Linked DNA regions of Homo sapiens. The protein of the gene in region 1 purifies or fractionates together with the protein of each later gene. This does not show direct contact. Each region holds a gene or a part of one and is shown in the gene's direction. Other genes may lie near its edges. The genes, in order: KIF16B, CMTR1, DCLK1 and RAB40B.

The links.
Region 2: the proteins of KIF16B (region 1) and CMTR1 purify together in Homo sapiens (affinity purification with mass spectrometry; one large-scale study listed by BioGRID and IntAct). This does not show direct contact.
Region 3: the proteins of KIF16B (region 1) and DCLK1 purify together in Homo sapiens (affinity purification with western blotting; one study listed by BioGRID). This does not show direct contact.
Region 4: the proteins of KIF16B (region 1) and RAB40B purify together in Homo sapiens (affinity purification with western blotting, with the first as the bait; one study listed by BioGRID). This does not show direct contact.

The regions. Positions count from the first base shown.
Region 1 is NC_000020.11:16,568,616-16,576,488, reverse strand, and holds the start of KIF16B (kinesin-like protein KIF16B), read left to right. Parts: upstream 1-3,040; 5' UTR 3,041-3,213; coding exon 3,214-3,260; intron 3,261-7,873. UniProt on the Homo sapiens protein: Plus end-directed microtubule-dependent motor protein involved in endosome transport and receptor recycling and degradation.
Region 2 is NC_000006.12:37,455,620-37,463,060, forward strand, and holds part of CMTR1 (cap-specific mRNA (nucleoside-2'-O-)-methyltransferase 1), read left to right. Parts: intron 1-2,992; coding exon 2,993-3,191; intron 3,192-3,946; coding exon 3,947-4,065; intron 4,066-5,929; coding exon 5,930-6,026; intron 6,027-6,350; coding exon 6,351-6,483; intron 6,484-7,209; coding exon 7,210-7,389; intron 7,390-7,441. UniProt on the Homo sapiens protein: S-adenosyl-L-methionine-dependent methyltransferase that mediates mRNA cap1 2'-O-ribose methylation to the 5'-cap structure of mRNAs.
Region 3 is NC_000013.11:36,105,524-36,112,964, reverse strand, and holds part of DCLK1 (serine/threonine-protein kinase DCLK1), read left to right. Parts: intron 1-749; coding exon 750-1,096; intron 1,097-7,441.
Region 4 is NC_000017.11:82,662,724-82,670,164, reverse strand, and holds part of RAB40B (ras-related protein Rab-40B), read left to right. Parts: intron 1-66; exon of another isoform or gene 67-81; coding exon of another isoform or gene 82-103; intron 104-1,857; exon of another isoform or gene 1,858-1,932; intron 1,933-1,964; exon of another isoform or gene 1,965-2,233; coding exon of another isoform or gene 2,234-2,324; intron 2,325-5,608; coding exon 5,609-5,669; intron 5,670-7,421; coding exon of another isoform or gene 7,422-7,441. UniProt on the Homo sapiens protein: RAB40B small GTPase acts as substrate-recognition components of the ECS(RAB40B) E3 ubiquitin ligase complex which mediates the ubiquitination of target proteins.

The DNA.
Region 1 (7,873 bases):
TTTGTTATTTAGTGGCTCTCTTGAGTACCCACCCCTCCTTTGCGGGGCCCTCCCACATTGCCTGGGCGTGACCATGTGACTGCCTTTGGTCAATGGAAGTCCAGCAAAGGCTTGTGCATAGTGCGGTGCTCTCCTGGCGAGGTGTCTCGCCGCCGCAAGAAATCTGGAACCTGGTCTAAACTTTTTGAGGATGAAAAAGCAAAATGCACCAACTTTTCCTCACCCCAGGTGAGCCTAGAGCCCAGCCACAAAGCCCGGGTGACACCAGCAACCCAAAGAATTGAGAGAAATAATAACCGGTTTTTGTTTTAAGCCTCCACATTTTTGGCCATTATTTTTATGCATCAGTACATAACTGATTTGGATCCCTGAATTCTTACTGACCTTTTGGGCCCTGGATTTACTGCTTTTTTTTTTTTTTGAGATTGGGTCTCACTCTGTCACTCAGGTTGGAGTACAGTGGTGCGATCTTGGCTCACTGCAACCTCCTCCTTCCATGCTCAAGCGATTGTCCCACCTGAGCCTCCTGAGTAGCTGGGACTACAAGCACACGCCACCATGCGTGGCTTTTATTTTTGTTTGTTTTATTTTGTCGTAGAGACAGGGTTTTACCGTGTTGCCCAGGCTGGTCTCAAACTCCTGAGTTCTGGCAATCCATCCTCCTCGGCCTCCCAAAGTGCTGGGATTACAGGCATTAGCCACCGTGCCCGGCCTAGAGCTTCTGTAACTGTTTTTCACTATCAGTTATTTTAAGCTCTCACAGTTTGCGTAGAGGTCATCTATCCCCTGGCTCCTTGCAGGGAGGGTGGCAGCCGACAGCATCTTCACTCCCCGAACGTGCTGGAAATGCCATGTCTCAGGCTTCCCCTCTGACTTGCCCATTAGAAGCTGCAGTTTCACAAGACCGCCAGGTGATTCCTTTAAACATTCAAGTTTGCAAAACACTTTAAAGCAGGCACACTAAAGTCTGAGATGAGCAAACCCCTTATCTTATAATAATCTTCCCTTTCAGAAACTTCCTTCACGCCCCAATAGAAATATTTTCTGCTAAGAAAGTGCCCGTTCCGTATCGTCTGTGATGATCAAGCCTTACTGCTTCCTATTGAAAAGCTCCAGGCATGCTGTTTGTTGTCTAAAGCGTCTGCCGGGCTGCGATGGTCCGTTTTGTGTCAGACAGCAAAGTCGTGGATGGAAAGGGGGCTTATAAACACGTGTAGGTTGTTGGAATTACATTAACGAATGAATGAGCAAAACCTTCTAAACCACCGACCAATGAAACCCCGATACAGAAAATCGCTGTCATGAGTAAGTTAGCACTCCTGAAGAGTTTGAATACTGAACTGGCCAGAGTCTGCGCGCCGACGCCCCCCAGGTGGCCGGAGTGACCCGGAGCAGGCGTGGCTGTCTCTCAGACCCGCGCGTTGGGCCCGAACAGTTTGTCCCCACGCAGCTCCCATATAAGGCGGGCCCCTCCCCTGCCCCAGCCAGCTAGGTCGCCGCGCTGGCTCCCTGGCGGCTTCTCAAACCAACCCGCCGCTACTGCGCATGCTTGGCAAGCTCGCCCGCTCCTTAATATCCTGCTCCGGCTGTTCCTGCCACCCGTTGGTCAAATTCGCACCCAGCTCTGCTCCAGACAGAGGGAAAACCCAGTGATTTCCGGGCTCTAGAAACAAAGGGAGGCTATGATTCCCTGCTGGCCCTAGGGGTCCAGGGAAGGTTATGGAAAGATAATTCTTTGTGTAAGCGGGTTGCGTACTTGCAGACATCATCCCACTTGATGCATTCACCACTCTATGCCGTTGTTCCTGATTTGCAGATGAGACAAGAAGCCTCAGAGGCGCCCAGTAATTCAGAATTACAGGCTGACAAGGCTAGTGTTGGAGCTAGGACTTAAAAACAGGAGTTCCGCCTCCATTCCTTGCGTCTCCCATTATAGCTTGGCTTCCTGGAATGGCTGCTCCTGTGGCTCGCAGGTGGGCTTCTGGGTGTGCGCAAACGATTTCATGCATGCTCGATTCACTGAATGAATGAATGCATTTACCTTCTACACAGGAAGGGAGGTGGAGCTCACTTCTACCAGAGGCCCTAAGCCTTAAGATACCAGTTGTCGGCCTGGCGCGGTGGCTCACGCCTGTAATCCCAGCATTCTGGGAGGCCAAGGCGGGCGGATCATTTGAGGTCAGGAGTTCGAGACCAACCTGGCCAACATGGTGAAACCCCGTCTCTACTAAAAATACAAAAATCAGCCGGGCGTGGTGGCACGCCCAGCTATTCGGGAGGCTGAGGCAGGAGAATCTCTTGAACCCGGGAGGCGGACGTTGCAGTGAGCCGAGATCGCAGCATTACACTCCAGCCTGGGTGACCGAGCGAGACCCTGTCTCAAAAAAAAAAAAAAAAAAAAAAAAATACCAGTTGTGTTCGCCTTTAACTCCCTTATGATTAAAACTAAAAATTACTAAAGTGTACAAAAGTGCAAAACAAGTCTAAATAAGGTTTGATTCTAGCCAATATAATGACATTCCCGCACACATTTAAAACATCCAACACCCTATTAATTTTCGTTTATCGGTATCCCGAGTTAAGGGGTCCAAAACATACGGTCGGACCTCCTTAGGGTAGCAGAGAAGGCCCTAGCGGAGTTTGCCACCAACAAGCTGTGATCATCTCTGCGCCTCAGTTTGTTCGTGTGTAAAATGGATACGTTAACTCATGTTTGGCTGGGTGAAGCCAGGTTCTTGTTAAGGGCTGAAAAACTGGCTTTGGTCACCTGACCCCAGGACTGTGATCCTTGCCGCTGGCTTTAAATTGCTGCGATCCTCTTCTCTCCAGTTGTTCAGGCCATGAGGGTGGGTTCTAGTTTTCCTGAAACCATCCGCTCCGGGTCGCCCCCATAACCTCTGCGCCAAGGTCCACAACGTGGCCTTTCCAGACTTGCAGATCCCGGAGGCTGCTTCCAGGCCCCGCGGCCCCGCCCCTCTGCACCGCCCGGCCGCCGCCAAACCGTGGCGCATGGATCACGCGGGCCGGAGCCGTTCTGGGCATGCTCAGTGGCCTGGCAGGTGGGGCTGCCGCGGAACTCCAGGTCCGGCCGGGAGCAGAGGGGCGGGGGCGAGAGGGAAGTGGGCGGGAGCCGCGATCTGAGTAGCCAGCGTCGCCGGCGACCGCGGAGTTCTGGGCTAGTGGGACCCCGCGCGGGCTGGTTCGGGATGAGCGATGGCATCGGTCAAGGTGGCCGTGAGGGTCCGGCCCATGAATCGCAGGTGAGTGGGGCCGCCCGCGCCCCGCCCCCTCGTCGCGCCCCCACCCAGAGGAAGCCTGTTTCCAGCTCCCCCAAAGCCAGCCTGGACTTAAAAGTGTCACCGGCTGGTCCCTGGCCCACCGGGCCCAGGCTGTGGCCTCTGGGGGCCTGGAGGACTTCGTGCACTGCTGTCCCGTTCACATTGCCCTGGAGAGGACCCTGGTGGTAAAGGAGAAGATTCTATTAACTCTCTCCATCGTATTAACTTGAGATGTTCTTGTTCCCCCTTTAAAAAAGCATCAAGGGAACGTTACCATGAAGATGTAAAATAGTTGGGGGGAAGGTGAGAGTGCTGAGGGGGGGCACCACGAACTGTCAGGTGAACCCCTCATTTCTACCAACTCAGAAGTTCTCTTAACAATTAACCATGCTACTTTTTAATCTTTCAGTTAGAGATGATTTTGATTCCCTGAATGTCTAATCGATAACTTAGCAGTTCCTAACTTCATGTTAGAGAGTGGATGGGAAAACTTTGACAAAGTCCTGACTCCTAGAAAAAAGTCAGGGACGCTTTACACGTGTTTGAAATACTCTGATATTAAGAGAGAGGAAGAGTGTTACACACAAAATTTAATCTTGTTATATATTTCTACGAAGTAATGCTTTTTCAGAATCCTTCTCTTCATTCACTGAAAAATAGCCTGTGCTCCCTTTTCAATGACCTCTTTTTAATCCGTTTAGAAAGTTTCTTTGGAAAAGTTACTTTTTAAATTGGTTTGACTTCAAAGAATGAGGTAGAAATGGGATGTGTCCTCCAAGGTGACAGGCAAGGTTCACACAGAGCCATTTGATTTTATTGACTTCTCTACCAAGTTGGTGGATATTTGACTTACCATAGGGCCTTTTTGCTTTTGTCATATCAACTTGTGGAGGTTAATGTTTGGTAGTTCTGATGCCTGATTGGGGCAGCCGAAGGCCATAAAATCAAAAGATTTCCAGAACCTTATTTGACTCATCTAAATCTGTTTCTTCTCTTGGCAAGTAGGGAATCATTATTTTGGTTTGTAATCATTAAAACCCAGTGTTTTCAGAATCTGCTTTTTGTGACTTTTGAGTTATTTCTAAAGCTGTTTAGAGTAAGAGTTTGACTTTTTTGCTCTAAGGGAATATTTTTGTTTCTGTGTACATTCCATCATAGAAGATAAACTTTAGAACGATTTTTCTTTATTATGGATTTTCATGTGTATAGAAGTTCTTTTTCTTTTTTGGAAAAAGGTGAACACATGCTAGAAAATTGTATTGTGTAACTTTAGAAAGTATTTGTTAGGCTGGGCGCGGTGGCTCATGCCTGGGAGCCACTTTGGGAGGCCGAGGCGGGCGGATCACAAGGTCAAGAGATGGAGACCATCCTGGCTAACACGGTGAAACCCCTTCTCTACTAAAACTACAAAAAATTAGCCGGGCGTGGTGGTGGACGCCTGTAGTCCCAGCTACTCGTGAGGTTGAGGCAGGAGAATGGTGTGAACCCAGGAGGCAGAGCTGGCAGTGAGCCGACACCGTGCCTCTGCACTCCAGCATCAGTGACAGAGCGAGACTCCCTCTCAAAAAAAAAAAAAAAAGTATTTGTTAAGCACCTACCAAACACATAGCATTCCTCAGGGTGCTGTCTGGGATACAAGGGGAATGAGACCTGGTGAGCCATGGTGAGAGAGGGATTATGTACTGGCATGAATCTTGTGAAGTATTGGGCCTGCTGGGACAGGAACTGTGAGTTCAGTGCCTTGCCAGTGTAGGCCTGGAGCCCAGGTACATGGAGGGATGGCAGGAAATAAGTCCAGAGGCCATGGGCTTTGGGGAGGCAGATTCGCGTGATGTTATTTATATTCTCAGTAGAGAACTCTGGTGGTGTCAAGATTGAGGTAAGAGGCAGGTGATTAGCAGTTTGAGCCAGAGATGAAATTGGAAGGCAGGATAGTTACAGGAAGACCACTCACTGGCAGAATTGGCAGGATTTGGCAGCTCACTGGATGGGAAGAAGGGGGAAGAATGCGAGTGTAGAGTCATTAACTGAGGTTTGATGCTGAAGGAGGTGAACAGGTTTGAGGAAGGTGGACAATGAAGTTGGTATGTTCTCTCTTGGATGTGGAGAGTTACATGAGATGTATTAAGTGTCAAGTACAAGCACAGAGCAAGTGTTTCACGCATGTTGACCTTGTTCATTATCTGAAGTGTGGGAAGGACATCCATCCCTCTGCTAGAGATGTTCAGCAGAAAGCTGAAAATGTGGGTTTAGGTCTCAGGTGATTTGAGGATCGACATTTGGAAATCTTTTGCACATAAACCACAATTTAAGGATGTTACGTGAGAAGAAAAGGGAGCCAGGGATTGGACATTGGGATATGCCCCTCTTTAGGATTTCAGGGAGAAGATTGGCTTGCAGTCCGTAAAGGAGAACCAGCACAGCAAATGGTCATGGCAGGAAAGGGAGAAGAGCATCCTGAAGGAGGTGGTGGGGGTTAGTGTCAAATATTGCCAGGATGATGAGAATAAGATGGTGTCCTTGGTCTTGAAGACAAGGCTAGTTGATAACCTTCCCAACAGTACTTTTAAGGAGAGTCAATGATTCAGAAGTTGGCAGTGAGTAGAAAGAGATATATAAATTGGCAACTGAATATACTTGACCTAATTTATAAGGAAAGACATGCATACTATAATAGTGATAAAATGCCATTTTTTTACCAGTGAGATTGATAAATATTAACTGAGCACCAATTGCTGGTACAGGAGTGATGAAACAGACGCCTCTGCATTGATCACGGAAGCATAAGGGATCAAAACATCTGAAACTTTCATATTGGGAAATTTGACAGTAGCTGTCAAGATTAGAAATCTGTATACTTAAGCAGAAAATGCTTCCCTTAAAAAATTGGAAATCTATAAACTTTTTGATTTGACCATTTCATTTCTACTTTTTCTAATTTCTAATTTTTATTATATGGATTATATTGCTGCCTACAAAGATATATGTGTAAAGATGATGATTTTTGCATCATCATTGATAACAAAAAATCATAAGTGACCTTAATATACAAAATTGGGAAATTTGTTAAGTTATAGCGTAAATCATTTGGTGGATTATTATGCAAGTCTTAAAAAGAGGGTGTTGATCTTAAAAGAGTTCCAAGGTAGAGGATTGAGAAAAGCAAGATATCCACAGTGGAGTAAAGTTGTGTGTTTGTGTGTGCTAACAAATGTACACACACACACACACACACACACAGATTCATCTATATGTAATGGTTTGTAAGAAACCTAACACTGATACCTCTAAAGAGGAGGACTGATGATGAATCCATTAGGCAAAGATGAAAGGCTTTTTTTTTACTGTTTGTTTTTACTTTCCTCATGCGTAGTTTTATAATTAATACTTAGAATTAATTATTAACCCAGCAGTGCTTATTTAGGTAATTTTAAAAAGTCACCTACAAAATTCATTGGCACTGGAGAAGTTTCAGTTGGTTGTGAGGAGGATTGAAGGAAGTTGTTAATGTTTTTAATGTTTATTTTTAGAGTAGTGGAGCCTCAGGCAAAGGGAAAGCAACCTACAGAAAAACAAGTCCCAGAGTTATTGGAAAGTAAGGACTGCTGGTGGTGGAGTATTGAGTTTGACTGAGTTTCTAAACTAGGGGCCTTTGCAGTAATCAGTCAGCCTTGTAAGGAATATGAGTGCTTGATTCAGGCCAAGATGTGATGAGTTTATTTTTATTGCCTTATGGCTTTCAATTATGTGGCAGTAATACTCATTTCAAATGCGGAAGTGATTCTGTTACGTAGGCAAAATGGTAGCCACCTTTATTGAGACTTGACTCTGTGCCAGACTCTCTGGTCCTAGCTCCAGGTACAAAATCCAGTTTAATCTTTGCAGCCATCTTGGCAGGTAGAGACATTATTGTTATGCCATTTTACAGATTGGGAGACAGAGTTTCTTAGTGTGTTTGGACTGCTCTAACAAAATACTGTAAACTGGGTGGCTTATAAACAACAAGCATTTACTTCTCGTAGTTCTGAAGCTTGGGATATCCAAGATCAAGGTGCCAGCAGATAGGCTGTCTGGCTGTCTTCTGAGAGCCAGGTCCTCATACATGGTAGGTTCTTGCTGTGTACTCACGTGGCAGGAGCAAACAGACTCCCTTGGGCCTGTTTTATAAGGGTACTAATCCCATTCACAAGGACCTCATGACCTAATCACCTCCCAAAGGCCCTACCTCTTAATACTATCTCAGTGAGGGGTTAGGTTTCAATATTTGAATTTTAGGGGGAGACAAACATTCAGATCATAGCACATAGTTAACTTGCTCAAAGTCAAAGTCAGTTTCTTAAGACAGTCACAGCTATGCCTTTTTTTTTTTTTTTTTTTTTTTTTTTTTTTTTGAGACAGGGTCTTACCCTGTTGTCTAGGCTAGAGTGCAGTGGCGCAGAGTCGTGGCTCACTGAAGCCTCAACCTCCTGGTGGGCTCAGGTGATCTCCCTGCCTCAGGCTCCTGAGTAGCTGGGACTATTGGTGCACACCACCACACTTGGCTAATTTTTAAAATTATTTGTAGAGACGGGGTCTCCCTGTGTCGCCCAGGCTGG
Region 2 (7,441 bases), on another chromosome or scaffold:
ACTGAAGGTAGATCTCTAAGTTTCAGTCCTAGCTGAGGAAATTAGACATCATTTGTCTAATTTCCATTGAGTGTGCAGTGCTGCTGTACTCGCCACTGGAAAGAGAAAAACATGGAAAAGGATAAGAGTTTTGACTCTGAGGAAGTTGATCTGATTGAGTACAATATCATCTTGCATTAATTGTTTAATACTTTACAGTTTGTAAAGCTCTTCAATATAGGATACTTTATTTAGTCCTACAACGGCCTGGAGAAATACCTGTATCAGTCCCAATTTATAACTGAGCAAGCTCAAGCTTAATGACTTAAATTGTGTGCTTGTCCTTAACTGCACAGTCAGTAAGTAGCAGAGCTAAGAACGCCAGCTGTCCTTCCTGTGAAAAGACTTCCTGGCCATGACCTATAAGGGCCATACATCTTGAAATCACAGAACGAGGTCATATTCATGCCCCCTTTGCAGGGGTGAGGTGTTCGCATCGATCATTCCGCATCCTTCTCCCAGTCTTCCTTTGGACCAGTGGTTCACTTAGAGGGCACGGCCAGTGGCAAGGAACCTTGCTTTTCCCTCTTTGCAGTATGTGTAGGGCTAAAACTTGTGACCCCTGCCACATTACCACCATGCTGACTCGAAGATGCTACATAATGTTCTTGGCAAATACCATTAGGTCTTTTTTGTGTGCAAATGAATATAATCCAAAAAGATGAATAATCGATGGCTCAGGAACAAAGAATGCTGGGGCGGCTTAGTAAGGAAGTGGGGAAAGAACGATTAAGACCCAGCATGCCTGGAGTGGGCTTGTCACGGGATGATGACATTTATTTTTAGCTAAAGTCACTTTCTCCAGAGACTTTTTCACTATTTTGATAAAGCCAGATAGCTATCATCAGAAGAAAGGCCCACCTCACCTAGAAGTGATTGGGTTGTAAACATTAGTATGTCTATTTCTTTCTTGGGACTGTTTCCCCTAAAGCTTTCTGATCGTTATCTAGCAGCTGCAGAACTCTAGACCAGCACTCAGCCATGCCGAACCTGTAGAGAGGGAAGACTGAGGTCCCTAAGCCCCTTCTGGCTTGAGTGTTCATCATGGTCTGAGGCCAACTATAGTCTTTTGCAGTTACTCACTTGTAGAACTCAACCTTTTGTTGTTGTCACCAGTGCAAATGGTTCATCCTGTCTGCTGTGGAGGGTGGGTAGAATTTCACTGTCTAGGGCTCAGGTGTGGGTAAGAGCATACCTAGCATTTGTGTAAGAGAAGTATAAACATACAATATGGTCCAGTACTGGGTTCAGCATAAATGTGAGGTTAAGAGATAAAGCTAGGCTGGGCATGGTGACTTACACTTGTAATTCCAACACTGTGGGAGGCTGAAGTGGGAGGATTGCTTCAGTCCAGGAGTTTGAGGCCAGCCTGGGCAATACACCAAGATCCTGTCTCTAAAAAAAAAAAAAAATTTGTTGAGCGTGGTGGTGTGTGTCAGGGGTCCCAGCTACTCAGGAGGTTGAAGAAAGAGGATTGCCTGAGCTCAGGAGTTCAAGGTTTCAGTAAGCTATTATTGTACCACTGTACTCCAGCATGGGCTGAGTGAGACCTCGTTGCCAAAAAAAAAAAAAACAAAAAAACCTGGGGAGAGAGAGCGAAAGCTACTCAAGGGGCCACAAATGTAATTATGCCAAAATTCAAATGATGATTAGTCAGTCCTGAGTTGGCTGGGTGCTCCGAGCGTTGCCTGGAAGCTGCTGTTGCTGCACAACAGTATTTCCTTCCCTCTCTGTCTTGTCAGCTTCTGACTGTGCCCTGCCCCAACCCCACACCCAGCGCTGGGCAGGAGAAGAAAAAAGGGAGTGCAAAAAGGAGAGAGACCAAATGCAGTGTGGTGTCTTGGATTGGATCCCAAACAGAAAAAGAACATTAGTGAAAATCTAAATGAAGTCTAGAGTTTAGTTAATAGTAAGGTACAAATGTTGGTTTCTTAGTTTTGCCAAACATACCATGGTGTAAGGTGTTAACAAAATTGGAAACTGGGTGAGGGGTACTATCTTGGCAACTTTTCTGTAAATCAAAAATTATTCCAAAATAAAAAGTTATTTGGGATTTTTTAAAAGGTGGTTGGGAGAGCCAAGGAGGAAGGGGAGAAAGGAAGACAGAGGCTATGATGGGAAAAGGAAGGTTCCTGTGGCTGGGAGAGGGTGTTAGAGCCCCCCAGCCTTTGGTTGGACAGGAAGACCTGAGTCTAGTGGCTAGGCCAACTGGACCCTGATTTAGCTTTGTTGCAGACTGGCTGTGAACAGATTACTTTGTGACTTTGTATCTTGGTGCCTCTTTTTCCCTATCTGTATATGTGGGGCATATTCTGTTCAGTAGGACTCTTGAAAGGCAGGATATGGTGAGGAAAACACTCTGAGAGATAAAAAATGTAGTCAGATACCCATAAATGTTTTTTGTTGTTTTTGTTGAGACAGGGTCTCGGTCTGTCGCCCAGGCTCAAGTGCAGTGGCGCGATCTCAGCTCACTGCAACCTCTGCCTCCCGGGTTCAAGCAATTCTCATGCCTCAGCCTCCCGAGTAGCTGGGTTTACAGGTGTGCGCCACCACACCTGGCTAATTTTTTGTATTTTTAGTAGAGACAGGGTTTTACCACGTTGGCCAGGCTGGTCTCAAACCCCTGACCTCAGGCTATCTGCCTCTCTGGCCTCCCAAAGTGCTGGGATTACAGGCTTGAGCCACCGCGCCTGGCTCCATGAAGATGTTTTTATGAGGAGTCTGAGCTAGGCCTGGTGATGTGATAGGCATTGTGGGTATTTTGAGGGTGGGTGAGGCAACACTAAAGGGTGTTAATCACCAGAAGATACATTTCCTGGGTGCTGTAGCTCTGGTGGGAGCTCTGGATTGTACTTGCCGAAAGGCTTATTTTACTCTCCCTGCATTCTCCTTCCTGTTGCCCATTGAGCTGTCTTGTTTTCCTTCCTCTCCTGTCCTCCACTTGCCTTTGCAGAAGCCACTGGTGAAGGACCGGGAAGCTGAGCTTCTGTACTTTGCTGATGTCTGCGCAGGCCCAGGTGGCTTCTCAGAGTATGTGCTGTGGAGGAAGAAGTGGCATGCAAAGGGCTTTGGAATGACTTTGAAGGGCCCTAATGACTTCAAGCTGGAGGACTTCTACTCTGCTTCCAGTGAACTCTTCGAACCCTACTATGGTAGGGACATTGAGGAGGGTACTAGGAGGTATGAGGGACAGCCCCTCTATGGGGACTTCAGGTCAGAAGCAGTTGTTATCCACATGCCATATTTTCTTTCCTAGGTCTCTTACCCTGGGCTTCACAGTTCATGTCAGAATCTTGGTTCCCTCTGGACTATCCCTTTTTACCCTGGGCCTGCAGAATACAGGTCAAACACTCCCTCAGCAGATTCTCATCAAGGCCCTATTAATTCCTCCTTTCAGGAACACTCTGCTTTTGTGGTGGCAGGAGATAATGAAACTGCCTGATCTCTGGCTGAGAACTGGCAGGGTTTTTAACAAATATAAACCCAATGCCCATCTCTCGCCCTCTGTGCCAGGTGCAGAATGCACTGGGTTGCAGACAGCTCAGCAACCCACAGCAGTCCCTCTGTTCTATGTTGATTGTAATTTGACAGCAAATCCTAAGTCCTTTCTGAACAGTCCTTATTACAAAATTGATGCCTAAATGTAGGTGCCTTAAACACAACTTGGGTCTTAAAGAGAAAGTTCCACGAGTTGATGACTTTTGACTGGTCAACTCCTTTGGGACTGTGTTTCATTATAGCAGAGTACTGTTGTTCCTCCTGGTCCATCACTGTAAGGGAGCCTTGCAGGATGGGCCCTAGTTCTTGAGACACCTGATGCCCGTCTTCACTGACCCAGAGCACTCGTGTCCCAGCTCCTGACATGTATAGGGCAGATGAACTCACTATGACTCTTGTATTCTGACAGGTGAGGGTGGGATTGATGGAGATGGAGATATCACCCGCCCAGAGAACATCTCTGCTTTTCGGAATTTTGTCCTGGATAACACAGATCGCAAGGGTGTCCATTTTCTGATGGCTGATGGGGTAGGTTACCTTTTTTCCATAGACTGATGCATTAAGGATTTGTTATTTTAGAGGTTTGAGAATTGTTTGTTTTATCTGGTTCTTTAGCTGCTCCCAAAGATGGTATTTCACAGTTCAGATTGTAGAGAATGCATTTTTATTCTTTTTATACATTTTTTAAATGATAATTGTGTAGAGACTGATGTTGTGGATACCTTTGCCTGGAGCAGGGTGATCTTGGTGTTGCTCCTGGTGGAGGCTGTCTATACATGGTCACCTGTAAGCCTCTCATAGGCTGACAGATGGCCACCTAACCAAAGACGGCAGCACAGAGGAATCCACAGGAGGCTCTTGTCAGGGCTGGGTTAAAGTGAATGTTCAAGAGGCCTTGTCTATGGGCAGCTGCTTGAGGCACAGAGGGAAGCCCATTGCAGCTTTGTTCAGCAGAAGCTCTCACCCAGTAATCTGACAATGCAGGCATTCCTTTCTGGAGTGAGCCACCACTTACTCTAGAGGAAGGACAGACAATTTGGCAGCTGCTCCAGGATCATATAGCTAGAGTTGAGAAAAGCCTCTGGGACTCTTTGGGTGGCCTCTTAAGCAGTAGCTGTGTGGCTAGTGAAGGAAGGTGGGCAGGATGTCAGCATGATATCCAAAGATGCCTAGGCTCACCAAAGCACTGTGCACAGCAGGGAACAACAGATGACAGGCTTGGGGCTGGCTGTGAGGGAGGGGCTGCTCTGGCTGAGCAGATGTGGGAGTCTGATAGCGCTAATGAGGCAGCTGTTGCTGTGCGGCAGCTATAGAGTTGGAAGCTCAAGGGCTTTCTGCTTCAGCACTTCAGCAGTGTAAAGGGGTGACCTGGGCTTTTTTTTTTTTTAATTGACCCCATAATCAGGCATGCATTTTGAGAAGCATCTTTAAGTCTGGAAGACACTCCTAAACATTTCTTATCCTGAGTCCTTTAGCTATCACTTCTGTAGAACTGAGTCAGGGACACCTGGGGCGTGTTTAATAGAGGGCAGCGTCCTTTTTTCTTTATTTTATTGTAAAAAACACAAATTTGATCATCTTAATCATTTTTAAGTGTTAACAGTAGTGTTAAGTCTATTCACACTGTTGTGCAACAGATTTTCAGAAGTTTTCATTTTGCAAAACAGAAACTGTACCCATTTAACAACACTGTGCCACCTGATGTCCCCTGGCCTCCTTTACTTTTATGTAAGCCTGACTCTGTCTCCTGCTGGGATCTCACAAGGAGGGAGACCACTCTAGAAATAGCATCACACATTCTTTCAGTAAATACCCTGGCCAGAGAGTCTGCCAGCTGGATACAAGAGGCACCGTGGTCTTAGGACAGGAAAGGGGGTATTGTAAGTAAAACCTGAGTCAACAGAGAGAGATTACTGTGACTAGGAAAGTTAACTTTTCTCCTTCACCAGAGTGGGAAGCCGAAGCAGAGTGTTCTCACTGTACTCACTCCCTGGTCTTGTTAGGACTCACCAGAGCATTCTGTTTCCTATGTTGTGGTTGACCTCTGACTAGCCAATATTTTGCCTCTGTTCTGCCTTACTCTTCTCTGGATTCCCATGAGTTAAAACACATTCTAAACCATCTCCTTGGAAAAGCAGGCTTGGTTCCATCCCCTGAGAATGACAGAGCAGGAAAGTGGAGCTGGTCCAGTAGTAGGCCTGGGTCCTGTGCTTACTCCATCTAACAAGCCCAGTGACCTTCTAAAATAACTCAACACTGAGCTGCTTCTTCATCAATCAGATGGTGATCAGTGAAAACACTTCAAGAACTCTCGATGAAGATGAGGTAGTGATGTTATTCTTAGTCCTTCTCTTTTCTCTTTCCCACCCCATTCCTTGTGCTCTCATTTCAGGGTTTCTCGGTGGAGGGGCAGGAGAACCTGCAGGAGATCCTCAGCAAGCAGCTGCTTCTGTGTCAGTTCCTCATGGCGCTGTCCATTGTCCGGACAGGTGACACTTCCTCAGCTGTCTCCTCACCCCAGGACCCACTTAGAGGCCCTATTGGACAAGAACATGTACAAGGGGTTGGTGGGGAAGTTAAAAAAATCTGCTTATATTAGAGGACAGGTAGCTAAATGAGTAATTTAGGGAAGAAAGGGCTGTGGAATCCTCAAAGTCCCCTCCAAAGATGGTTCTCCCCCTTAAATTGTCTCTGAGTTTTAACAGACCCAGGTGCTGGTTTCCTTGACTTTGTCATATTTACTCCCAAGACTACTTCACCCATCTCTTGGAATAGACCCATTGGCTGCTTTTGGTGTTTTCTCTCTAATCTAGGAGGCCACTTCATCTGTAAAACCTTTGACCTGTTCACACCGTTTAGTGTGGGGCTTGTCTACCTGCTGTACTGCTGCTTTGAACGAGTTTGTCTCTTCAAGCCTATTACCAGCCGTCCTGCCAACTCAGAGAGGTGAAGCCTTTCTCTCTATATTAGCCAGATTAATTGGCTAAATGTCAGAACAGCAAATCATGGTGCATCTCTCTGGCATGACCTCTTAAGCTACGTTTAAAACCTTGACTTTAAAGAAGTGATGAGAGCCAACAGGATTCAGGATTCCTGGATCTTTTGGTCTTGTGATATGCCAGTTCAGCCTCTGCCTCCTTCTTCCAAGCCTTATGCTCCATGCTTATGTGAGGGATTCTCAGCTTGGCCAAGGAGAAAGTGACCAATAGTAGGGACACTTCAGGGGTCTTGGGCTGGGAAGGGGCAAGGAGCCGCTATCCAGAGGCACTACTGGGGTCCCAGTGTGACACTGCCCACACACAAGGTGAGAGAAAATGCAACCAATCAGAATTGCCCGGTGGCTTTGTTACAAACACATATTTCTGGGCCTTCTCCTGGGAGAGTTTGATTCATTAGGTCTATAATTTAACAGACTCCCCAGGTGATTGTGACACAGCCCGTCTGTCACAGGGAAGTTAGGAACTACTGCGATAGAGAGTAGAAATAGAGCTCAACAGAGAAGGATTTGAGGGGAACTTTAGCACCACAAAGGGTCTGTGTTGTTCTTTGTGCGTAGGCCTAAGGTTGAACAGGGAAGCCATTAAGCTTTGTGATTCCACAAGGGGTTGGGGGAAAAGGAATGTATGGGGAGGAAGCCCTTGCTCGGTGGAGTGACAGAGTATCTTCTGCCAGGTATGTGGTGTGCAAGGGCCTGAAGGTGGGCATAGATGATGTTCGGGATTACCTCTTCGCAGTGAATATTAAACTCAATCAGCTGCGGAACACGGATTCCGACGTCAACTTGGTGGTCCCCCTGGAGGTGATCAAGGGAGACCATGAATTTACTGACTACATGATACGGTCCAATGAGAGGTAAGCCAACGGGCTGGTTTTTGCTGGTAACACTGAGGTCCTAAGGAAGACC
Region 3 (7,441 bases), on another chromosome or scaffold:
GTGATCTACATCTACTTAATAGTCTGATTATTTTCATTAAAAGATTTCCTGCTAAGGAGTCACTTTTAATAAACATTTACTTATATTTATTTTAGAGCCCATTTTTGAAGCTGTAGTTTGTATGTTGAACACTTCTAAAACCTCTTACTTATGAACAAGTATGAATTGACCTTATAGTATGTGTGGATCACTGTGATTGGCACTATATAGATGAGAGAAAGGAAGGGTGATTATTTGCTTGCTTTTGGAACTTTACTGGGCTTTACAAAATCTTTAGCATCAACTCTCATCAAATTCGTAAATTATATGACTATTTTAAGATGCTGTATTCTGATTCATTCTTAGTGTTTAAATTATCTCAGGTAGCAAATGGAGGTACTTCCAATTTTGAAATTTTCTGCAGATTTAAGTATCTCTAATTCCCAAAGAATATTTTCTATTTTAAATTCACTTTCACACTTCTCTAAGGTCTTTTCAAGTAGATCAGCATTTCTATCACCGACCTTAAGATGAGGAAATGGAGGAATAATGTTTTGTTTTGTTTTTCCAGGATGTGGATCTGTTGCTGACAGTGCCAGATTAGCAATCAGAAATCTTTCTTTTTCCCTAATTATTAATCACACTTCCATTGTTTGAAAAGTCAGGGCTAGCTCTTGCCCCTAAGCAGAAAAGGCAAAAGAGAGGATAAGTAGGAAAAAAGAAATGGGCATATTTTAGTATAAATTTAAATATATTTCTCTCTTCCTTAGGAGAGAGTTATGTATGTGGCTCCATAGAGCCCTTCAAGAAACTGGAGTACACCAAGAATGTGAACCCCAACTGGTCGGTGAACGTCAAGACCACCTCGGCTTCTCGGGCAGTGTCTTCACTGGCCACTGCCAAAGGAAGCCCTTCAGAGGTGCGAGAGAATAAGGATTTCATTCGGCCCAAGCTGGTCACCATCATCAGAAGTGGCGTGAAGCCACGGAAAGCTGTCAGGATTCTGCTGAACAAGAAAACGGCTCATTCCTTTGAGCAGGTCCTCACCGATATCACCGATGCCATCAAGCTGGACTCGGGAGTGGTGAAACGCCTGTACACGTTGGATGGGAAACAGGTAAGAGACATATTGTGATGTGACTTTGACTTTAAGGCAAGAACCAGGGAGTCGGAGGGTGTACGTGGCTAAAGCATACATTTTGCTCAAGTTGTTAAAGGGCCTGGGTCACTTGATCAACAAATATGTACTTGCTGGCCCTAGAACAGTCAGAAGTTTGAGTTGAGCAGGATTATTCATAGGAATAAAGTAAGAAAAAAATGCATATCTTTGAAGATTAAATAATTACTCAGTGATTTCTACTTGTTCATTTATTATTTGCTTAACATAATGATTCTTTTCTGTCATCTGTTTTCAGTTTTCTCATAGATCTTATAGCCTGAAGAATGAATGACTGAGGTGTGAAAGTAAACTCTGACCAGTAGGGAAAATTCTAACTTATTTCTTTGACCTAAATATTTTATGATTTTAAGTCTTTGTAGTGTTCGCTAGTGAGATTTACTTACATTTTATAGATTTTAAAATATGTATCTAAGAAATGACATATTTCCATCTGGATAGCTTTAAAGGCATATTTCTAGAATAGTACGCATCTTGTATTTTTCAGTGTTAAAATGAAAGGGAGGTTTTTCAGCTACAGAATGAACATCAGTTGACTTGGATGGGTGGTCATTTTAATGTGAGTTGGTCAGATGAACCCAAAGGAAGCATCACCTTTTATTGTCTTGGGTGGACTATTTTTGTACAGGTTTGACAGAACCTTGATGGTGAGTTGAATTAAAAAACATTGATTAGGGCCGGGCACGGTGGCTCACGCCTGTAATCCCAGCACTTTGGGAGGCCGAGGCAGGCGGATCACGAGGTCAGGAGATCGAGACCATCCTGGCTAACAGGGTGAAACCCCGTCTCTACTCAAAATAAAAAAAAAAAATTACCTGGGTGTGGTGGTGGGCGCCTGTAGTCCCAGCTACTCAGGGGGCTGAGGCAGGAGAATGGCGTGAACCCGGGAGGCGGAGCTTGCAGTGAGCCGAGATCGCACCACTGCACTCCAGCCTGGGTGACAGAACAAGATTCCGTCTCAAAAAAAAAAAAAAAAAAAAATTGATTATATGTACAGCATGATTTGCTAGTCATTCAGAGTTTACCAGATTATACTTTTGAGCACACTATCTTTGCTGGAAGTTTAGTTTTTAATGTGGTGCTATCAAAATGCTTTTTTAAAAAATTTTTTTTGAGGGATAATTTGAATGATTTGTATGTATAGTAAATATTAAAATTAAAATGATCCATGAATTAAAAGATTGATCTTATTAAATAGAAGACTCCTCCAAGTTCTTAAAGGCTAGCGCATTCAAACTTTCTGAATTAGAAATAGATGCTAATCCTAGAAAGAGTATTAGTCATGAAAGAATACTTCCCTTAGGGATCCATTCAGATGCTCTAAATTATAAAATTCATTAGGAAAGAAGGAATATGTGCCAGTTGTTCATTTGTATTTACCATCTTTTGCTTGGCTTATAACCCTTGCCCTAAGTAATATGCGGATAAGGATTCTAATGGATGAGATTCTCTAATGAATGAGACTTAGTCTTCTATATTTAAGAGTCTGTAGCCTAAATGTCGTAAATCTATCAATGACCAGAAAGTTCATGCTGGCTTGTGAATTATAGTAGCAATAAGATGGCAAACTTCACCTTTACACATTTTGTAAGCCCTTCACTGGCTCCATTTCTAATGAGTTATTCAAACATCTTGTAGTTCTGAATTTTCATATATTGAATTTTCTCAAGATGGGAGTTCATCTATTTTCATAAATATTTACCTATTCAAATAAATATTTTTATAAAGTGTCTCATTAGAGCAAAGAATACATATGGATAAATGTTCCCTCTCCCTGCTGCACTTCAGAATTTTGGGAGTTCCAAAATGCTACTCTGAATCTAAAAATCGGCTTTAATGACTTTAGCTAAAATTTGCCATCAGCTGATTATTTAATTTTGTTTATTTCAGGAATAAATCCCTACAATAGGTATGATGTTCTCAGTTGTTTTCTTCCTTACTGAATTTGTCTAGAATTAATATTTGATAATGGCTAGTTTACTGTGGTTTACATGTAAATAATCCAAAGTCATGGGACGGAATCCGAGGTTTAATGTCAAAAAACCAGGATTCAAGTCTTGGCTCAGCCGTAGATTCCTTATGTTTTTAGCAAAACACTTAACTGAGCTTCATTATCCTCATCAGTGAAACACAGATAAAATGATTACCTGTGTTTTATAGAGTGCTGTGGGTCAACTATGATGATACATGCAATAGCAATTTTGAACTATAATGATGATAGCTTTATTGAGCATTGTTCAAAGTGCTTTGCATGTATTAGCATGCTTAATCCTCATAACAACTTGCTTATTATCCCCATTTAACAGATTAGAACACTAAGGCACAGAACTCGTTAAAAACATGCACAAGACCACACAGCTACGATTTAAACTGGTCTTGCTCCAGAGCTTGTGCTGGTAACCACTGTACCACTTTAGATTATGTTAAGGCACCAAACTGATGTAAATGTATTGAGAAAGAATTGTCAAGGGAGTAATTTGTCCAAAGAATATCATCTGAAACATTTCTGCTCTGTCCTTTTTTTCCCTGCAGTCATTCTGCTGACTGTTGTACTCAACTGTTGTTTTGTCAAGCGTTCAGTTTGCTGCTGTGGCATTTCCCCTAGTGTTGGCATGTTCTCTTCATAGCAGGATCAGTGAAAAGCTGCAGAGGAATTGGATGATAAAGTGGAAAGAACATAAAGACTTATTCGTTGGGTTCCCAGTGAGAACAAAGATGCTTCCTCATGGACCCCAGGAGTCTTTAGAATCTTTTTGGCTCAAAAGAGAAATCTGTCCCATAAGCAGTTTGTTAGAGTAGAATTTTTGACAACCCTGGCAGAGACTGAGGCTTGATAAGCCTCTGAGAATAAATCAGTTTCCTCCACGCTGTCCTGTGGAATAACGCTTGGCCATAGTGGGGTGGCACCTGCACTGCTACCATCTTGGCCTGCCTGTGGTGGCATCGGGGTCCATATGCTGCCAACAAGATGCCACCCTAAGATTACTTGTCCCACCTTTTTAAAAAATAGTTTAACTGAACCCTCACATCAACTCCATAAACAATATGGGAATTCCAGTGCCCAGTAAAGAATTTCATGTTTTTGGGTTGAGGAAATAGAATTGTTTAAAAAATGAATTGCTTGAGTGCTTTGAGTAAATGCGTAGAGAGGAAGATGGTTTTGTAGATTGCCTTGGGGCAGCCTACAGATGTATCCATGGCATGAAAACTGTTGACGCTGGGATTTTGGACAATGGAACCATGAAAGCCGGAGCCTGCTGTTTAATATCTTACCCAGAGGAGACGGACACCGGAGGGCACAGACCACATGCTGTTCTCACTTGTTTCTACCACCACTCCTTGCTCAGTTGCCTCTCGGGTTTGTGTTAGCCCTAAGCAAAGAGTTCATTGAACAGTACTTTTTTTGATGTTTTTAGACTGAGATAAGGAAATAAACGTTTTGGAAATGCTGCACAATCTAGAAAAGATTTTGCAGGAAGCTGCAATTGGCCAAGATGACCGTTGTGGTTCATAAGCAGCCTATGTGTGAGCAAACCCTTTCTAATGATTTCAACTCCATTCTTTATTCAGGGGCACTGAAGCTTCAGCAAATGGTTGCCCCGACCTTCCTCCTCTTCCTTGCAACTTTCAGGGTGACTGCTCACCAGGTCATCAGTCCTTTTGCTGGCATGGCTGGCAGTTCAAGGAAGCACTTACCATGCCTTAATTTCAGTGATGCATTTTTTTTTTTTTTAAATCTGGGCCTTGGTTAAAGACCTCCAAAGAAGAAAAAGGGACATTTTCTAGCTAACAGTTAAAATCATGTCCCCTGAACCCATGTCCAAGGGGAGGATCTGCAGGATCTTAGAGTCTGAGAGTCTCTTCCTCTTGCCCAAGTCCAAGCTCTGGATGTTGGAACTTTGCTGTGGGTTATTCACTTAACCTGCCAAGCAGTTACTCCCAGAGGCCATTTGGAGTATAACTATTTTTTAAGTGCTTAAAATAAGACTAAAAGTTACCAGATTTGCTACAAAGATACCCTTGCATATCTCCTGACTCCTTTTATGGAAAAGCAAATCTGGCTTTCTTGAGCTGCTAAATCTGTGGTTCTTGAATCCGTCCTTAGAAACATAGAACAGCTAGTGCCTAAGTAGGTGATTTATACTATAAAGAACATAGATAGGGCACTTCCCAATGATCCCCTTCCCACTGAAATACAGCAATGACAAACTGGATTGCTCTTTAAGTAGAAAATAAATGCACATCCCTATCTTATCTACTTTTCAACATCAAAGATCTGTACAACATTGCAGCATGCTTTAGTGAAGAGAAAAAAACCCAGAGATGTTATATTTTTATCTTATAGACATTTCACATAGGCCATGTACTTTATAAAATCTACCACTGCTAGTGAGTCGAGATCGCGCCACTGCACTCCAGCCTGGGCGACAGAGTGAGACCCCGTCTCAAAAAAAAAAAAAAAAAAAAAAAAAATCTACCACTGCTAGCATGCTAGAGTGAGCAAACAATTTATTGTTTTCCCAATATGGAAAACATTAGGAATTACTCAGCTGAAGTATGGGTAGCCATAAACTGATTTCGATGGTAAGCCATGAGAAAGCATCATAACTGCCATTTTGAGGACATCCCAGTAGCTGTTGATAAATTAATCCATCATTACATCTTCTCTGTATCTTTTGATCATGAATCCTCATTGCCTGTTATAAAGCTCAAAAGATGCTTGTAAATGAGTCAATAATTGCCGCCATTTATTTTAGGTGTTTAATATAGGAGTTTACTTGATTACAGGAAATGGTAATGATGATTAATAGGAATCTATTAATCAGATATCACAAAATGGTCTTTATTTTCTTCTTTTTGGCCTTTAATATCTAATTCTAATCTGAAGTAAAAATAATTTGGTCGACTCTTGGGTTTAGAGTGCTTAAGATATGTCTTCCTCTTACAAGTTAAAAAAGTGGTACAAATTATTATTGCATCTGACCTTGGCTATAGGAGTTGATAAGCATAGAAAATGTGGAAACTAGAGGTTTCCAGACAAAATGTAAGAAATTTAGAATCTGATAGGATTTATTTGGAATGGGAAAGGAGGTTTTCTGTAGCTATTAGCAGCAGTGGTATTTTTCCTTTTTTATTAGTAGAACTTTTCTGTGACAGTTCTAATTAACTTCTGCAAGCATATTAAAACCCTTCATTCTTGGTATAAAGAATGTGTACTATTGATTTGCTACACTACCTATGTAGCAAAAGGGAATGTAATACTTTTTAGTTTTGTTTGCGATTGGAGTAAAAAAACAGTTGATACAAGTAATTTAGCTTACACTTTAAAATGTCAAATTAAAATTCTCTACAAAAGCTCAGAGCACATGTTAAACCATCCTCATGATTTATTAGAGCTATGAATTGATGGAAATAGATGATTTCAAAGAAAAAGAAGTTTAAGAATCGTAATGACACTTCACTTACAGAATTAAAGTGTTCAGAATAGAATGTACTATTTTAGGTCACATATCCTTGGTCAATATTTAGGACTCATGAGCTATACCTGTCCTTATGTAGATGTTAGTGCCTCCAAATTGGGAAGATTTAAGTCCTTTTTTTTTTCACTTTGAGCTCCTCTGAGGATGTGATCAATTATGGGTACCTGCAGTGATGTATATTTTAAGGCTTAGATTCATTTTAGCAAAAGTTAGTTTTCTGTAAATTGCATTCTAGCTCGCTGTAAAATGAATTCTAAGTTCTCTTAGTGTTCCACTGCTGTACTGAAGATAGGTTTTCTAAAGCCCTTCCATAGTGTGCTGAGAGCATTTGGGGGACGTTTACAAGTCTACTGGCTTTGTGATTGCCTTCTGGTGGTGAGTTCTCTTGCTTCTATGACAGCTGGAGCCCTGACCCGGCCTGTGAGCCTTTTCTGTCTGGCAGGAGCATGTTGGGATGATGGAAAGAACTTGGACTTTAAAGTCAGCTGGTCAGTCAGTTATCCCTGCAACAAACAAACAAAAAAATTCAGCTGAGCCTGGACTGAGATTTCAGTCTGGAAAATCTAGCTTGTGGTTTTTCATCCAAGCCTGGAAAATTAAGTTAGCCTACCCAACTTACTGATTAGTTAAGTTTAAAATTTCTGTATATTGAATTTACTTATAATGAGGAAATTTGCTTATGTATGCTATAAATTAAGCATAGATATACATGATAACATGACAGAGAGGAAAAACATTAGTTCCATAGAATTATAGATGAGTTCAAATCTGTCCTCTACTCTGGGCATAGTGAAATTTATCCTCC
Region 4 (7,441 bases), on another chromosome or scaffold:
AAGGACAGGTCAAGAGGATACTTTCTAAGTCAGAGGACCCAGCCAAGCTCAGGCAGTGGATTAATCTCCGGAAAGACAAATATGAGCCTCTCAGCCCGTGGGGGTGAGTGTCCCTTCGTCTGGAGACAGACATATCAAAGCTGGAGTTATCTCCGCATTCGAAAATAGATTCCCAAGTGTATTCGTTCATTGCCTCGTGCCTGCCAAGGGAAAATAAATATTTCCAAAATTCTCTTTGAGGATTGCTATTATGGAGCAAATATGTATGTTCTTTTTTAATTTATTGTTTGTGTTTCACGCTCAGTGTGTTCATTGCTGACGGCTGCAGGACTTGGCACATGATGGTGCCTTCCCGAGAGCTTAGTAGGGTTTTAAAGGACTGTGAAGAGATTTTTGGTCGTCGCTCAAAGCGTAATTTCACAGGGCCTGAAGCTCCCGCGCTGGGGCTAGTAGAACTATCTAGTTGGAAGGCTCCAGAAAAGTGTTTTTGTCTCCTTTTACATTTTTTTTTAGAGACAGAGTCTCACTCTGTCACCCAGGCTGGAGTGCAGTGGCACGATCATAGTTGACTGCAGTCTCCAACTCCCGGGTTCAAGAGATCCTTCCACCTCAGCCTCCTGAGAAGCTGGGACGACAGGTGTGCACCACCATGATTGGCCAATTTTTTTATTTTTTATTTTTATTTTTTTGAGACAGAGTTTCGCTCTTGTTGCCCAGGCTGGAGTGAAATGGTGTGATCTCGGCTCACCACAACCTCCACCTCCCAGGTTCAAGCAATTCTCCTGCCTCAGCCTCCTGAGTAGCTGGGATTACAGGCACCCGCCACCACGCCCGGCTAATTTCGTATTTTTAGCAGAGACAAGGTTTCTCCATGTTGGTCAGGCTGCTCTCGAACTCCTGACCTCAGGTGATCCACCCCGCTCGGCCTCCCAAAGTGCTGGGATTACAGGCGTGAGCCACCGCGCCCAGGCCCTAATTTTTAAATTTTTTGTAGAGATGAGGTCTCACCATGTTGCCCAGGCTGGTTTCGAATTCCTGGGCTCAAGCGATCCTCTCACCTTAACCTCCCAAAGAACTGGGATTACAGGCGTGAGCCACCGTGCCTGGCTATTTTCCTTTCTGTAAAAGGACTGTTTCCTTGATACTCACTTGGTCACCTGGGAAAACCACAGCAGTGTGGTTTTGGTCTGACAGCAATGGAGGCTACGCCGCGTGCCCCACTGTGGTGAGGTCAAGCTCCTGGTGCTAAGATGCTGATGGTAGCAGTGGCCCATCTAGAGTGGCTGCTGCCAAGATGCCGGCTGCAGCGGAGGCATGGCTGGGCCTCTCGATCCACGGATCAGGCAGCAGCTCCGCCTTCCCTGCGTGCCGCGGCCCGCTGCCCTGGGGCAGCTCTAGACGCGGGCGTCTCTGTGCTCTTGGAGGCCTGGGAAGGCCACCCCTGCCCCCTGCAGGCTTAGAAGTGCCTGCTCCAAATGCCTGGCCTCTCCTCACTCCCCACGCCCGCTCCAGTCGTGGAGCACAGTTGGGGCTGAGCCCAGGTGCTGCTGCAGACCATCCGGGTGGGTCCACACTTGGGGCAGCACGGACACACCAGCCCTTGCCACCTCAGCCCCCTCGGGACTGGGCGCTGTTGAACATGGGAGGGAAGCTGAGGGAGGGCTGAGGGTGGCTCAGTGCTGGCCTGCAGGCGCCCCTTGGCATGAACAAGCTGGGTGCCATGAACAGCAGTGGGAGGCAGACAGACTTCTGGGTGGAAGGGGGCAGGTCCCTGGTGAAGCCACACCTTGAAGCTTCAAGGGGGCCTGGGGCCCGGGCTGCCAGTCCTGCAGACTGGAAGGAGGACTCGGTGCTTTTGTCAGAGGGGGGATGTGCATGCTGGTTGGGGTGGGCTGCCTGTGGACCAATCAGCGTGCACTTCCCCACCCTGAAGACCACAAAAACCCCAGACTCAGAGCAACGCGGACGTCGGGATGACCAGCTGCGGAGAGCTACCCTGTCTGCTGAGAGCTGAACACTTGTCAGGACGACCTGCCTGCAGAGAGAAGCCACCCACTGTGGGTCTCCCCTGAGCTGTTCTAACACTCAGTAAAGCTCCTCCTCGTCTCGCTCACCCTCCACTTGTCTGGGTACCTCATTCTTCCTGGATGCAGGACAATAATTCAGCAGCCACAGAGGTTTCCAGCCGGAAGAGCAACATCCCAAAGGCCCCATCAGTGCCCCGTCAGCGCCCATGCCAAGAAGAGAGAGACAGACGGTGCACTCAGCGTGCCTGCTGGGCTCGGTGGCAAACGTTTGGCCAGCTCAGGAAAGCCTCGTACTGGGTGGGTCAGGGGACTGCTTGGCCGCTCTGTCTGAGCCTCATCACGGGGCAGGTGGCGTCTGCAAAGCGGGTGCTTCGGGCGTTCTCAGTGCTGCTGTATCTTTTGTCCTCTGAATCACTCTCCTCTGACGGGGGGAGTTTGCTCTGGTGTTGCTTGGTCTAATCTACCTGGTGGCGTGATGGGCAGTCTCTGTGGACAGAGTGTGGAGTTTAGCAGGAGACAGAGGAGGATGCGGGAAGCCTGGACTCCATGTCTCTGGGGCTCTGGTGGCACCACAGAAAGAGCCTCTGGAGTCCAGGAAGGGGGCAGGGCCCGGAGGAGGAAGCAGAGGGCAGGGGACAGGCTGGACACAGCAGCTGTGGGAGGGAGGGGTGCTCGGGATCTCATGGAAGGCGCTGCACAGGTGTGCTCAGATCAGGCAGGTGTGCCATGCACGTGCTCATGGCTGCATCAGTGGAAAGTGGAGGACAGAGGCCCAGAGCTGCTGCAACGCCCAGGCCTGCCTGAAGATGTGGGCGACCAGCTGTCCAAGCCAAGTGGGAGGCCACCGGTGGCACCGCCACTGCACACCTCGCTCTGCCCGACAGGAGACCAGGAACTCGGCACACTGCCTCCTGGGATGCAGGGGGGCTTGTGGCCAAGTCCAAGGGTTCTAGACCCTTCGAGGGGGCAGAAGCTGCTTGAGAACCGTGGCCTCCGCAGCCTCGCATTTTTAGAGGAGCCTGTTTCTGGGCACTCACTGGCTACATCGTGGGCTTCTCTGGAAGGAGAGCTGCAGAGGCCGTGTGCTCCACGACGGTCTCCAGGGTGAGGTCTGGTGCGAGCCTCGGCGCTGCTTCTCCCCTCGGCCTCTCAGCGGCGCGCTTCCCTTTAGAATTCTGATTCCCTATTCAGCCATACTTGTCAAAGCACTCAACATCCGATCACAGCCGAGAGTGAGGCCAGGGCTTGTCTCTTGTAGGTTTAGTGCTTTGAGAGATACTGTCAAGTAAATCCTATACATGAAATAAATCAAGCAAATCCCACAAAGGCTGGTCATGTCTTGTTACTAAGCAGTTTGGGTTCCTGTGATTGTACGTGTCATTGTACCTGGTTTTAGGAAGGCAGTGCTCCTACCCGGCATTCTCCAGCCCCTTAACTCAAACCCTCTCTTTCCATGTTCTCAATGACAGACCTGGTGCTCATCCGGAAGCGCTAGAAGTGAACACAGGAGATGTTTCCTAAAGAAGCAGAACACTGGTGTCTGGGGGGTGATGGGGGCGGGGAAACATATTTTTCCCTTTAAAAATATTTATTGGCCGGGAGCAGCAGCTCATGCCTGTAATCCCAGCACTTTGGGAGGCCGAGACAAGTGGATCACCTGAAGTCAGGAGTTCAAGACCAGCCTGACTGATATGATGAAACCCCATCTCTACTAAAAATACAAAAATTAGCTGGACGTGGCGGTGTATGCCTGTAATTCCAGCTACTCAGGAGGCTGAGGCAGGAGAATCACTTGAACTCAGGAGGCCGAGGTTGCAGTGAGCCAAGATTGCACCACTGCACTCCAGCCTGGGCAACAAGAGCGAAATTCCATCTCAAAAAAAAAAAATGTATTGTGGCCAGGCATGGTGGTTCATGCCTGTAATCCCAGCACTTTGGGAGGCTGAAGTGGGAGGATCACTTGAGTCCAGGAGGTTGACCAGCCTGGGCAACACAGCAATGCCCTGTCAATTAGCCAGGTGCGGTGGCAGGTGTGGTGGCAGGTGCGGTGGCAGGTGTGGTGGCAGGTGCGGTGGCAGGTGCGGTGGCAGGTGTGGTGGCAGGTGCAGTGGTGTGCCTATGAGCCCAGGAGGTAGAGGCTGCAGTCAGCTGTGATTGTGCTACTGTACTAGAGCCTGGGCGAGGGGGAGACCCTGTCTCAAAAAAGATTTTTTTTAAGTGTAGTTTTTTTTTTTTTTTTTTTTTTTTGTTGTTGTTCTTGTTGTTTGTTTTGATACAGAGTCTCCCTCTGTCGCCCAGGCTGGAGCACAGTGGCACAATCTCAGTTCACTGCAACCTCCGCCTCCCGGGTTCAAGCAATTCTCCTGCCTCAGCCTCCCTACTAGCTAGGATTCCAGGAGCCCGCCACCACACCCGGCTAATTTTTGAATTTTTAGTAGAGATGGGGTTTCATCATATTGGTCAGGCTGGTCTTGAATTCCTGACCTCAAGTGATCCACCCGCCTCAGCCTCCCAAAGTGCTGGGATGACAGGCGTCAGCCACCGCATCCAGCCCTTAATTGTAGCTTTTTATTTTAGAAGAAGTGTTCCAGCATGGTGGCTTATGCCTGTAATGCCAGCACTTTGGGAGGCTGAGCCGGGCAGATTGTGTGAACTTAGGCGTTTGAGACCAGCCTGGGAAACATAGCGAAACCCCGTCTCTACAAAAAAATACAAAAATTATCTGGCCCTAGTGGCACATGCCCGTAGTCCCGGCTACTCAGGGGACTGAGGTGGGAGGATCACTTGAGCCTGGGCTGTGGAGGCTGCAGTGAGCTGTGATCACGCCACTGCACTCCAGCCAGGGCGACAGAGAGAAACTCTGTCTCAAAAAAAAAAAAGAAGAAGAAAGGCATTCTCGGGTTTTTTTTTTGTTTGTTTGTTTTTAACTTGAAAAAATAGAAATGTGGAAAGAAGGTTCCAGCCTACCTGTAATCTGCACCCCAGAGGTGGCTGGGACGGGTGTGCAGTCCCGTGTCCCTGCACATGCGTGGTTCACATGCACATGTACACAGCTGAGAGCGGGCATCCCACGCAGCGTCACGTCTGTCTTTACTGTACTTTCCTAGTGTGATACTGGGGGACGCAGTCTCAGTGTCTGCAGAGCCGCTGCCTTAGCCCCGTTCCCTTGGAAACAGAGCTGAGTCGGAGCTCTCAGGCCTGCAGGCTTGGGGAGGAGGTGGGGAGGGAAGGACCAGCCCAGACGGGGGCACACCCAGCGGCCACAGCCCCGCGGCAAACCCACCGGCCTCCAGGTCACATGTAGGCCCTGCAGTGCCTGTCGGGGAGCCCCCTGGGCCAGGGTGATGCGAGCCTGACCCCCACAGAGGCCAAGGCGGCTGAGGACAGGAGGGGCCCGGGTGCGGGAGGGCGCAGGCAGGGCCCCTGTGAGCTTGGGCAGACACAGGGAGGGGGTCCCATCCGCCTGCCTTGTAAACCTGGAAGTTGCACTGATGAGAAACCCTTTTCTTCCCTGAACGTGAGACTTCCAGCGTCCTGTTAGCTGCAGCCTCAGGCCTAAGCCGTCTCTAACCCTTCCGCAGGCATCGACTACAAGACGACCACCATCCTGCTGGACGGGCGGCGGGTGAAGCTGCAGCTCTGGTGAGTCTGGAGGAGGTGCGAGCGTCCCGCACCCCCAGGGAGTAACCCCCCTGGCTGGCATAGCACCCCCTGTCAGCACAGTGCCCCGGGGAGCACCCATCCCCCACCACCATCGGCACAGCGCCCCCGGGAACACCCTCCCACCACCACCGTCGGCACAGCACCCCGGGGAGCACCACCAGCCCCACCACCATCAGCACAGCACCCCGGGGAGCACCCTCCCCCCACCACCATCGGCCCAGCACCCCAGGGAGCAAGCTCCCCCCACCACCATCTGCCCAGCACCCCAGGGAGCACCCTTCCCCCACCACCGTCGGCACAGCGCCCCCGGGGAACACCCTCCCACCACCACCATCGGCACAGCACCCCAGGGAGCACCCTCCCCCCACCAACATCGGCACAGCACCCCGGGGAGCACCCTCCCCCCACCACCGTCGGCACAGCACCCCCGGGAACACCCTTCCCCCACCACCGTTGGCACAGCGCCCCCGGGAACACCCTCCCACCACCACCGTCGGCACAGCGCCCCGGGGAGCACCCCCAGCCCCAGCTGCACCAGGGCTTCTCTGAAGGAGGTGGTGGTCCGGTTGTCTGGGCCCCCGTCATCCAGAGTAGGGGACCCCAGAACGGACATAGCGCTGTGGCTGGGAATCGGCTTTTGGGATCAGAACCTGTGGCCTGGTGTCTGTGGGAAGATGCCAAGAGGGGACCGATGCAGCGTGGTTGAGGCAGCCCGGGGCTCCTGGGTCCCCCACGCCTGGCTCAGTGATGCCACTGAGCACCCGGCAGGGAGCTCGGAGCGTCCTGGTGCCAGCGGGGCTGTGGTCGGGCCTGCGGGTGGAGGACCCAGACGTGGGGAGGTGAGGACTTGCTGGCCAGCCTGGGGCTGCTGGCTCTGCTCTCTCAGCTGTGAGAACCCCAGCTCCTCACCTTGGGGCAAGCCCGGGGCACCTCTCCCTCCCCCAGCACCCCCACCTTGGGGCCAGCTTGGAACACCTCTCCCTCCACCCGCTCTTGGCTTGGGATGGGGGGAGCTCCTGCGGTTCCAGCTCTGGGGCGGTGGGGATGGGGGGCTCCTGCGGTGCCTCATCCTGGGGCTGCCTCCCTCTTGGGCATCCCTCCTGCACTGCTGCCACTCCTGGGTGACCCTCGCCTGAGCCTCCTGGCCCTTCCTGCCTGCTGGGCCACCCCCGAGCCACGTGTGCCTCCAGCAGCTGGGACCCCCTTCTCTTACCTGTCCCCTTCCTACGCCTGCCCCGTCTAGTAGTGGCCAGTCCTGGGGAGCCTGTCTCCACAGTGTCCCCAAGCGCCCCGACCCTTCCTGCTGCACAGCTTCAGGCCTCCCGCCCAGTCTGCTCTCAGGTCCCCACTCCCCCGGGGCCATGCCCTCGCTGGGCTGGCGTTGGGGTTGCCGTCAGCCCCTGTCCTGCTCCCCACCCTCCGCCAGCTGGGCCTTTGCTGCCTCCTCCTGGCCCTGAGCCCTGCAGGTCCAGGACCTTGTTCTCAAGTCTCTCCCTCCCTCCCCGAGACCACTCCTTCCTGAGGGGCCAAGGCCACCCAAAGGCCGCACTCGGCCCCACGCCTGCCCCTGAGCTCAGTGCCTTCCTAAAGATCTGCTTGCATCAGGGCTGGCGCGTGCCCTCTCCCAGCTCCACCCCGGGTCTGGCTGCTCACCTTAGCGAACGCCTCCCTGACCCCAGCTGCCCAGTGGGCCGAACAGTCACCCTCACACTTTTCTCCCTCTCACCTCAGGAGTGAGATCCCAGGGGGCT